2 separate regions of the Homo sapiens genome follow, and region 2 is reported to be linked to region 1. Evidence: microRNA targets listed by miRTarBase, many of them from high-throughput screens and not tested one by one. Region 1 holds a microRNA gene; the other region holds the end of a gene's coding sequence.

The links. Region 1 holds the annotated microRNA hsa-miR-4430 (AGGCUGGAGUGAGCGGAG, at 2,857-2,874, opposite strand). A microRNA usually pairs through its seed, bases 2 to 8, with sites in the 3' UTR of a target mRNA and lowers its output. Matches are read on the target gene's strand: a 7mer-m8 pairs with bases 2 to 8, a 7mer-A1 pairs with bases 2 to 7 and ends in A, and an 8mer does both.
Region 2: miRTarBase lists RAB5B as a target of hsa-miR-4430. Seed matches in the 3' UTR shown: 7mer-A1 at 2,258-2,264 and 7mer-m8 at 1,443-1,449.

Annotation. Positions count from the first base shown.
Region 1 is chr2:33,416,977-33,421,392 of GRCh38, reverse strand. MIR4430 (microRNA 4430) reads right to left here and starts at 2,877; the gene lies at 2,829-2,877.
Region 2 is chr12:55,991,414-55,995,413 of GRCh38, reverse strand. It overlaps RAB5B (RAB5B, member RAS oncogene family), which reads right to left. Exons shown (of 6, transcript NM_002868.4): 5 at 3,961-4,000; 6 at 1-3,317. The coding sequence ends at 3,202. Among named protein-coding and RNA genes, the nearest start is that of SUOX, 3.9 kb to the left of the region's middle.

The sequences.
Region 1 (4,416 bases):
GAAAGCAGCTTCCAGGCAAACTCCTTAGCTCCCCTTCCCAACCCACTTGTTACTCCCAAGCCATATACAGAAATCTGGTGCTACCACTCATACCTCTAATTCTATCATGGCTCAAACCTGTAGGAAGGCACCAGTTGCTCTGATCTTCATGAATGGAGCCTGATCAGCCTCATTTTCCCAGTAGTGGATGTTTGCTGCTCAGGCCAGACCCCATATTTGATGTGATATGCCCCAGCATAATACATGGACAGTTATGTGCCCTCCTGGAGGTGCCAGCAGAGAGTGGCGAATATAACCAGCTGCAGTGGCTTGCGGTCTGCCCCAGAGCTTTGTAGATTTGACATGGAAATTAACTCTTCAGGCAACAATCCTAAAAGGTCTTCCTGGGACCAGTCAGGAAGCACCGATGATTGTATCTCTGATCCTGGACCAGCATGAGGACTGTAGTGTCCAGGCTGAATGTCCCTTCTTTCTATTGTTTTACATATTCATGTGCAGGAAGGAGAGCATGCCACATAGTATAGTCAGGAATCCTGCCTGTTTGAAAGAGTATAATTCTAGATATGAGAAAAACAATGGTTCAGAGTTTCCCACAAACCCTAAGCCAGAGGTGCCGCTTGTGGTTTTCAAAGTGCTTGCAAATTCTTTGACACTCTTCCCATCAAATAGTAGAGTTTATGTTCCCTCCTGTTGAACTTGGGTGGGCTTTTGTAACCGCCTTGATGAACAGAATGTGGCAGAAGTGAGGATAATTCTGAGTGAAGTTAGACATACAGCTTCTCCTGGCTTCTCTGGGGAGAACTGCTCTGTGGGGCATGGGCTTCCATGTACAAATCAAGATACTCTGAAAAGGACCACTTGGAGAGTCTAAATAAGTAGACAGATACCTAAGGAGCCCCAGTTGTTCCTATCCCCAGCTTCTTGAGTCTTCCCGGCCCAGGTGCCAGAGCTTTCAAGATGACCCCAGCCTCATCCACCACGTGACTACAGCCTCATGAGAGACCTCAACCCAGCTCAGCCAACCTGCTTCCTAATTTCCGATGCCTTGAAACCATAAAAGACAACAACTGCTTGTTCTCGTTTCAAGCCTTTACAATTTAGGGTGATTTGCTATGCAACATTAAATAACAAGACCACAGCCTGAGTAAATGAAGCTGCTGAAGGGAGCCCAAGAGAAACTCGGAATTACCTCCAAATTTCTCTGAAGAAAGGATTCGAGGTAAGGAAAAGATCTGCAGCTGCTTGTAAGGCAGATCATCTGTCTTCACCATGCTGAAAGAGCAAGGTGGACTCCTGCTTGAAGAGCACTGTAACTTACTCATGCAGTAATGTGGAATCAGGAAAGGAAAGTGATAGTAACAATTTGCTTACAATTGCCAGGGCAAGGGCAGAGACTTGGAGAACACAGTGGGAAATGAATGGTAAATATGTCATTCTCTACTGGAGGCAGGAGTGGGAAGTAATTAGCTGGGGAGGAGTGGGAGCTGGCTAAGGTCAGAAACAGTGACCTTACAGCATTATTATCTTTCAAATTCAAATACACTTCTATACCTCGCTTTGGGTTGCTGGGACAGAAACTGCAAACGACATTTCTATTTTTCCAGCCAGATACCTTTCAGGCTCTTTAGGGGGTGGTAGAGGGAGCCTGCAAGGCTGGAGGAAGAAGAGAGAATTTGCTGCCTCCTGTCTACTTCTTATTCCTGTGATGTCACCTGAGCAAAGCTTCTTCAAATGGGCAGAGGCACGGCCTTCTCACAGCAGCAGCTGAATCTGCTTTTCAATTTTGTCCCATTTATAAAACACGCTCCTTTGTACCCACTCAGAGACATTAACCCCAGCCAGCCAGTACCAACTCCTCAGAAAATTTGAGTCTCCAAGACTCCTACTCTACGTTTCCAAGTTTAATAATTCCAATCTCTTCCCTCTTTTCCCTCAGTTGAAAGGGTGGTAGCTGATGACTGCAGTTGCCACTTACCTCTGTGATACTTTAGAGATCTTTTTTCCCTTCTCAGTTACCTAGCTAATGGCTTTTTACCTAGTTGCAATTCTTCATATTAAAATTTTCCTTTTCCTTTACCTGGTGTGGCTTCTGTCTGCTGAATGGATCCTGACTAATAAAAGGTATTTCTTCCAAAGAAAAATCTATGATGGTAACTGAGGTTGGGGGTAACTGAAGGTTCAAATAGCAGGGAGATCAAGTTCAAATACCAAATGCAAAGACCACAGACAGAATTTGAAAGAGTGACCACAAAGTTAGGAGGTTGAAGGTGGGCAGAGACATAAGCAAAATAAGAGTAGGACTGGAACAAGATAGAAGGCTTAGGGTGATTGCTATGGAGGTGGAAATTATCAACCCATCCACCTACCCGCTACCCTCCCCCAGTCAGTAGGATGGGTAAAGCTGATTTAAAAACCTCAGGCAAGGCCAGGCGCGGTGGCTCACGCCTGTAATCCCAGCACTTTGGGAGGCCAAGGTGGGCAGATCGTGAGGTCAGGAGGTTGAGACCATCCTGGCTAACATGGTAAAACTCTGTCTCTACTAAAAATACAAAAAATTAGCCAGGCATGGTGGCATGCGCCTGTAGTCCCAGCTACTCGGGAGGCTGAGGCAGGAGAATCACTTGAACCTGGGAGGTGGAGGTTGCAGTGAGCCGAGATCGTGCCACCGCACTCAAGCCTGGGCGACAAAGCGAGATTCTGCCTCAAAAAAAAAAAAAAAAAAAAATCTCAGGCAAAAGTGGACATTACTTGTCTAGATTTGGGGTTGATGAGGGTTTTTTATTGGAGGTGGGAGTCGTTTTGTTTTTTTGAGACAAGGTCTCCCTTTGTCACCAGGTTGGAGTGCAGTGGTACGATCTCCGCTCACTCCAGCCTCACCCTCCTGGGCTTAGGTGATCCTTCCACCTCAGCCTCCCGGGTAACTGGGATGACAGTCACATGCCACCATGCTTGGCTAATTTTTAAAATGTTTCGTACAGATGGGGTCTTGCTATGTTGCCGAGACTTGCCTTGAACTTGTGAGCTGAAGCGATCAAGTTCTAAGAGCAGCTTATAATATGATTTTTAACGCATGTTGTCTATGATCATAGAGGGAGATAGACATGGAAAGAAAGAGGGCCTTTTCTGCCTTGTGCCTTTTTCCATGTCTATTCTAAGGACCAGGATTGCCTTGAGACCAACACTGTGAGAGCCCTGACTCAGTATCCATAGATATTCTATCTGCACATTGCAGAGCACTAAGCCAGTCCGCCTTCTCAGCTTCAGACTAGTCAGTTTCATGGACTTTCAGCATCTCTGTGTAGATGTTTCCAGGCACCTCAAACCCACCATGCTCAAGGATGGATCTAATCTCTTTTTTCATTCAGATTTCCCCCCCGCCGCCACCATGGAAAGCAGGTAGGAAACACTGGATTTCTTCAATGTAGCCCCCCAAAACAGAAACCTGGTTGCCTTTTCTTTTTTCTTTTTTTTTGAGATGGAGTCTCACTCTGTCGCTCAGGCTGGAGTGCAGTGGTGTGATCTCGGCTCACTGCAACCTCTGCCTCCTAGGTTCAAGCGATTCTCCTGCCTCAGCCTCCTGAGTAGCTGGGATTGCAGGCGCCCACCACCACACCCGGCTAATTTTTGTATTTTTAGTAGAGACAGGGTTTCACCATGTTGGCCAGGCTGGTCTTGAACTCCTGACCTCAAGTGATCCGCCCGCCTCGGCCTCCCAAAGTGCTGGGATTACAGGCATGAGCCACCACGCCCGGCCCTGGTGACCTCTTAGCATCTTCCCTTTTTGCTTCTTCTGGCTTCAAACTATTTGAAATACTCTGTGTGACACATCAGTGAACAAAATGAAGTCTTGTTGCCTAGTTGGGAAAAATGGAAAATCAGCAAAAGGTAAATCTGGGAAAGACTTTTTATTTAAATTATTTCTCTTTGAAGGGACTCATGAAAAATTGAGAAAATAGGGAGCGGTACTGGTCATGAGGAATGTGGGGAGGGAATCCTGAAATCTCCAGCTCTGATTTGCAGAGAAGGTTTGAGAATAAAGAGCTCCAAGAGCTGTTTGACTCATGTTGGCCGATCCTGAAATCCAGAAGTCCCCTGGCAGGAAACCCTCTGGAGACGACAGACTAAACCATCCTGCCATTGTCAGCCTCACAAGGGGCTCAGCAACTCAGCAAAAGGAAGTTGTTTTTTTGTATTGCACTTTTTTTTTGTCTTAAAGAGATATCCTTCTTAATAGTTACATTAATATCTTGAATAAAGATGGAGAGTGTATGTCAACTTGGAAGAGACAGCAACCATACTGGAAGTCAGAATCAGAATCTCAAAACATCTTAACATAAGGCTAAAGAAAGGGACCAACAACAGAAGAGAAATTAATAGGAGCAAAGGTAAAATTTTGTACTGAGGTTCAAAAAGCCA
Region 2 (4,000 bases), not on the chromosome of region 1:
ATGGATCCTAGAAATATGCACATACGGCCGGGCGCAGTGGCTCACGCCCGTAATCCCAGCACTTTGGGAGGCCAAGGTGGGTGGATCACGAGGTCAGGAGTTCAAGACCAGCCTGACCAACATGGTGAAACCCCGTCTCTACTAAAAATACAAAAATTAGCTGGGTGTGTTGGTGCGTGCCTGTAATCCTAGCTACTCAGGAGGCTGAGGCAGGAGAATCACTTGAACTCAGGAGGCGGAGATTGCTGTGAGCCAAGATCGTGCCACTGTACTCCAGGCTAGCGACAGAGACTCCGTCTCAATTAAAAAAAAAAAAAGAAATATGCACATACATTTTTGTATACTACTTCAAATAGCACCCCTCTCTCTAATCTGATCAGTGGGCCCAAAGATCCACAGACCATACCCTACACATATACATTCTGTTAAGAGGGCCTAAAAAGATATAATAGGGTTTGATTTGATGAACAATCTAGTGGCCTTAGAAGAGGGGTGATTAAATAGCAATAGAAGGGCTATTTTCTAAACTAGATGTTTAAGAAAAGATTAAAGGGAATAAAGATGTATCAAGATGCAGGGAAAGGTGTGTTTCTGATTCAGTAGAACATTACTGGGTATCCTTTCTTCCAAATTCCTAGTACCTGACAAATAGCAAAAATAATAATAATAATAACAATAAAATAAAAAAAAGCAACACTCCAATGCCCTTTTCTTTTTTTCCTTTTTTTACTTACATTAAATACATCGGTAAATCAGCAGTCGCATTCTGTTACCACGATTGTTATGTTGGGAGAGGAAGAAAGGCAAATGCTTTCTCAGAAGCAAAACAAAAACAAAAAACCACAACACCCCCCCTTAAAAAAACTGACCAGAAGAAAAAAATGAGCTGGGAAATAAACAAAAGAAAACTAAGATCCCCAAGCCCAACAGAGCTCAAAGGAAGGCAGAAGAGGTGGTAGGAAGTAGAGGGAAGGCAGCCGATAGGCCCAGAAGCTAAGGCCAAATCCTGTTCCTATGGGGGTGGGGGGAGGGAGAAGCCTGGGGAAGTGGTTTCCCAGGCCCAAGATAATGAAACATCTTCACTCCTGCTCCAAGGGGGAAAGCTGCACAGAGAAAGAACTTCATTTCTAGAAGACTTTGGAAAGCCATCCTAGTTCTTCCACTTGTAAAAAGGATGCACTGGGTGCTATGGGGGGCCAGTGGCTTCTGGGAAAGGAAGGGGGAAATGTGTGTGTTTCAGGGCCATGGGAACTAAGGCTGCCCCTGGAAAAGGAAGGGAATTGAGGCCTAAGTGGAAGAACCTAAGCTGGGTCCTTCAGAATCTCAGCTTCATAGATTTCTCAGCTGTTCTGGGATAGAAGGCAGTCTGCAAGCCAAAAGGGCAGGAAGGTTCCAATCCTAGGTCACTGTGACCTTTCCTTTCTTTCTTTCCCAAAACTCCGGGCTGGAACAAGGAACTTAAAGTTCTCTTTTGCCTTGATGGCTTCTCAGAGACATCTTAAAACACCTGATGAAGGATATGAAGAGAGACTAGAGATTTAGAAAGGACCAAGGTCCTCTGATAATATGAGCCAGTTGTAAGGTACCTTCAGTGCCGGTCATTCCCTCTCCACAGGAACAGGTGGTATGATACGAGGGCACCACAGGAGGCCTCTGTGGTACTAGCCCCTATTGGTACATGGATTAAACCACTGGTTGCATGATGGGGAGGGATGGGGGGATTAAGGATGGAGGGACTAAATTCAAGATATTAACAAAGGAACAAAGAAACAGGGCCTGATGGGAGGCAGAGGATAGAACAGACTGTACAGTGGGAATAAAGATCATACCTATTTACAAGGAAGTAGAAAAGACATGGTAATGGATATCAAATTGAGTGTGAAACCTGGGAAAGGACAGAAAACTCCTCCCTTTTGCCTGACCTCCTTTTTACTCCCCTACCTTGGCCTGTGCTATCCTGAGACACTCCTCAATTGCTCAATTAATTCTCCAGGAAAGGCAAACCTATAGTCAATAGTTAGCTTGGCAAGAATATAGGTTAATAATTAGAGTTGGAGGAAGCTAACAGTGGAGATAGGACTTGAGTAGCTGCCACTGGTAGTTTTATCTATAACCTCTCCTCGAACCTCGCATTAACCTCAGATTTCATTGAATTAAAAAGAAGGTGGGAGGGCAAGTAAATCAATCAAAACTTCCATAAAACAAGTACCCCAACTGAACTACCATCAATTAAAGTGCAAACTGCAGGGGTATATGGTGGCTGGGGCTGAGGCCATCTAAAGGCCAGAGGGGAAAAAATGCATATGTATAAATCAGAGGATGGGTACCAGAAACTGTCCCTCCTCCAATCAGATCACAGCAGAGCCAAAGATGCAGGCAACCAGTGAAAATTCTTTGGAAGACTCTGGGGTCCAACCCCCACGATTAGGGGAAACGCTACCTAAGAGGCTGCGTGAGGGGAAACTGGGCCTTTGAAGAGTTACAGAGCCACAGTTGACACTGCACCTCCACCTCCGCCCAGTTAGCTTACAAGGCACCTCCTGCCTGGTGCCTGAGATCTTGCCTCCCCATTCTCACCTCTACCTAGGAACACCCTCCACAAGGCCAAATCATGGATACCGCAATGTTTTCAAATATGAGAAACTCCAACCAAATAAAAACAAAAAGGAAATGTTTCCTTACTCCCTCCTGCTCTGAGCTTTATTCTCCCCCAGGGCCCTTAATGTAAATGAACTGGAAACCTCCTTCCTCAGTTCCTGGGTTCACCACTTTCTGCATCCTGGGGAGAGGAGAAAAGAGGCTCAAGAACAGGGACTGACCAAAAGCAGAAGGGGAAGGGACAGGAGTCAGAAGTGTTTTCTGAAAAAATGGGGAGGAACACTAGGGAGGAGGAGAAAAGATACGTAAGTCGCTGTCTTGTACCTATAATACAAAGTGAAGAAAGTTTGTTTTGGAAGGTAAGTCCTGGGGGGAGTTGACCCCCAAGCCCCAGAGTAGGGGGTAGGAGGCCAGTGGCAACAGCTGCCTGGTGTTTGTTGCTGAAGCGTTAAAAAGTGCCATGACGGAGCTGTCAGGAGGCAGCCCTTGGGAGCCAGGGCTCAGTGTGCTGTTACCGTAGGGGTTGTGTGCTGAGGGGTAGGGATGGAGGTTATTTCTTAGCTCTTGTGCTAGCTCCATACTTGTTTGCTGCTAGCCACCCCCTCAGTTGCTACAACACTGGCTCTTGTTCTGCTGGGACTGTTCATGGAGATCCACACCCCGGCTTCGGCCTGCTGCACCTCCCAGATTCTGGGGTTCACTCTTTGGCAACTTCTTAGCTAGAGATAAAAAGAGAAGAGAACAAAGTATGGTAGACTTTACTTCCCTACCCCTCTGCCTCCACCCGCCAAAAACGGCTACTGAATTGGGGAAAAGGGAGAATTTGAGAGATTAAAAGAATGTTCTGAAGATGGGAGGGTTCACTATTTGCAAACTTTTTTTTTTTTTTTGAGATGGAGTCTCGCTCTGTTGCCAGGATGGAGTGCAGTGGCACAATCTCGGCTCACTGCAACCTCCACCTCCCGGGTTCAAGTGATTATCCTGGCTCAGCCTCCCAAGTAGCTGGGACTACAGGTGTGCGCCACCACGCCCAGCTAATTTTTGTATTTTTAGTAGAGACGGGGTTTCACCACATTGGCCAGGATGGTCTTGATCTCTTGACCTCGTGATCCGCCCGCCTCGGCCTCCCAAAATGCTGGGATTACAGGTGTTAGCCACCACACCTGGCCGGCAAACTTACACATTGAAGACAAGGGAGCTAAAGCTGCAGCCAAGGATGGAGGTCATAACAGAAAGTTAAGGTATTTCCATACCTAAAGTTTTTGCAAAAGGAGATACTCGCACCTATCCTTGATTTGGGTTAGCTATAATTTTGCCTATAAACGAGGGAAAAAGGAGGACCTCAGGATGTTCTGACCTTACCTATTGCCAGGAAGAGATCATTCACGTTCATAGCTGTCTT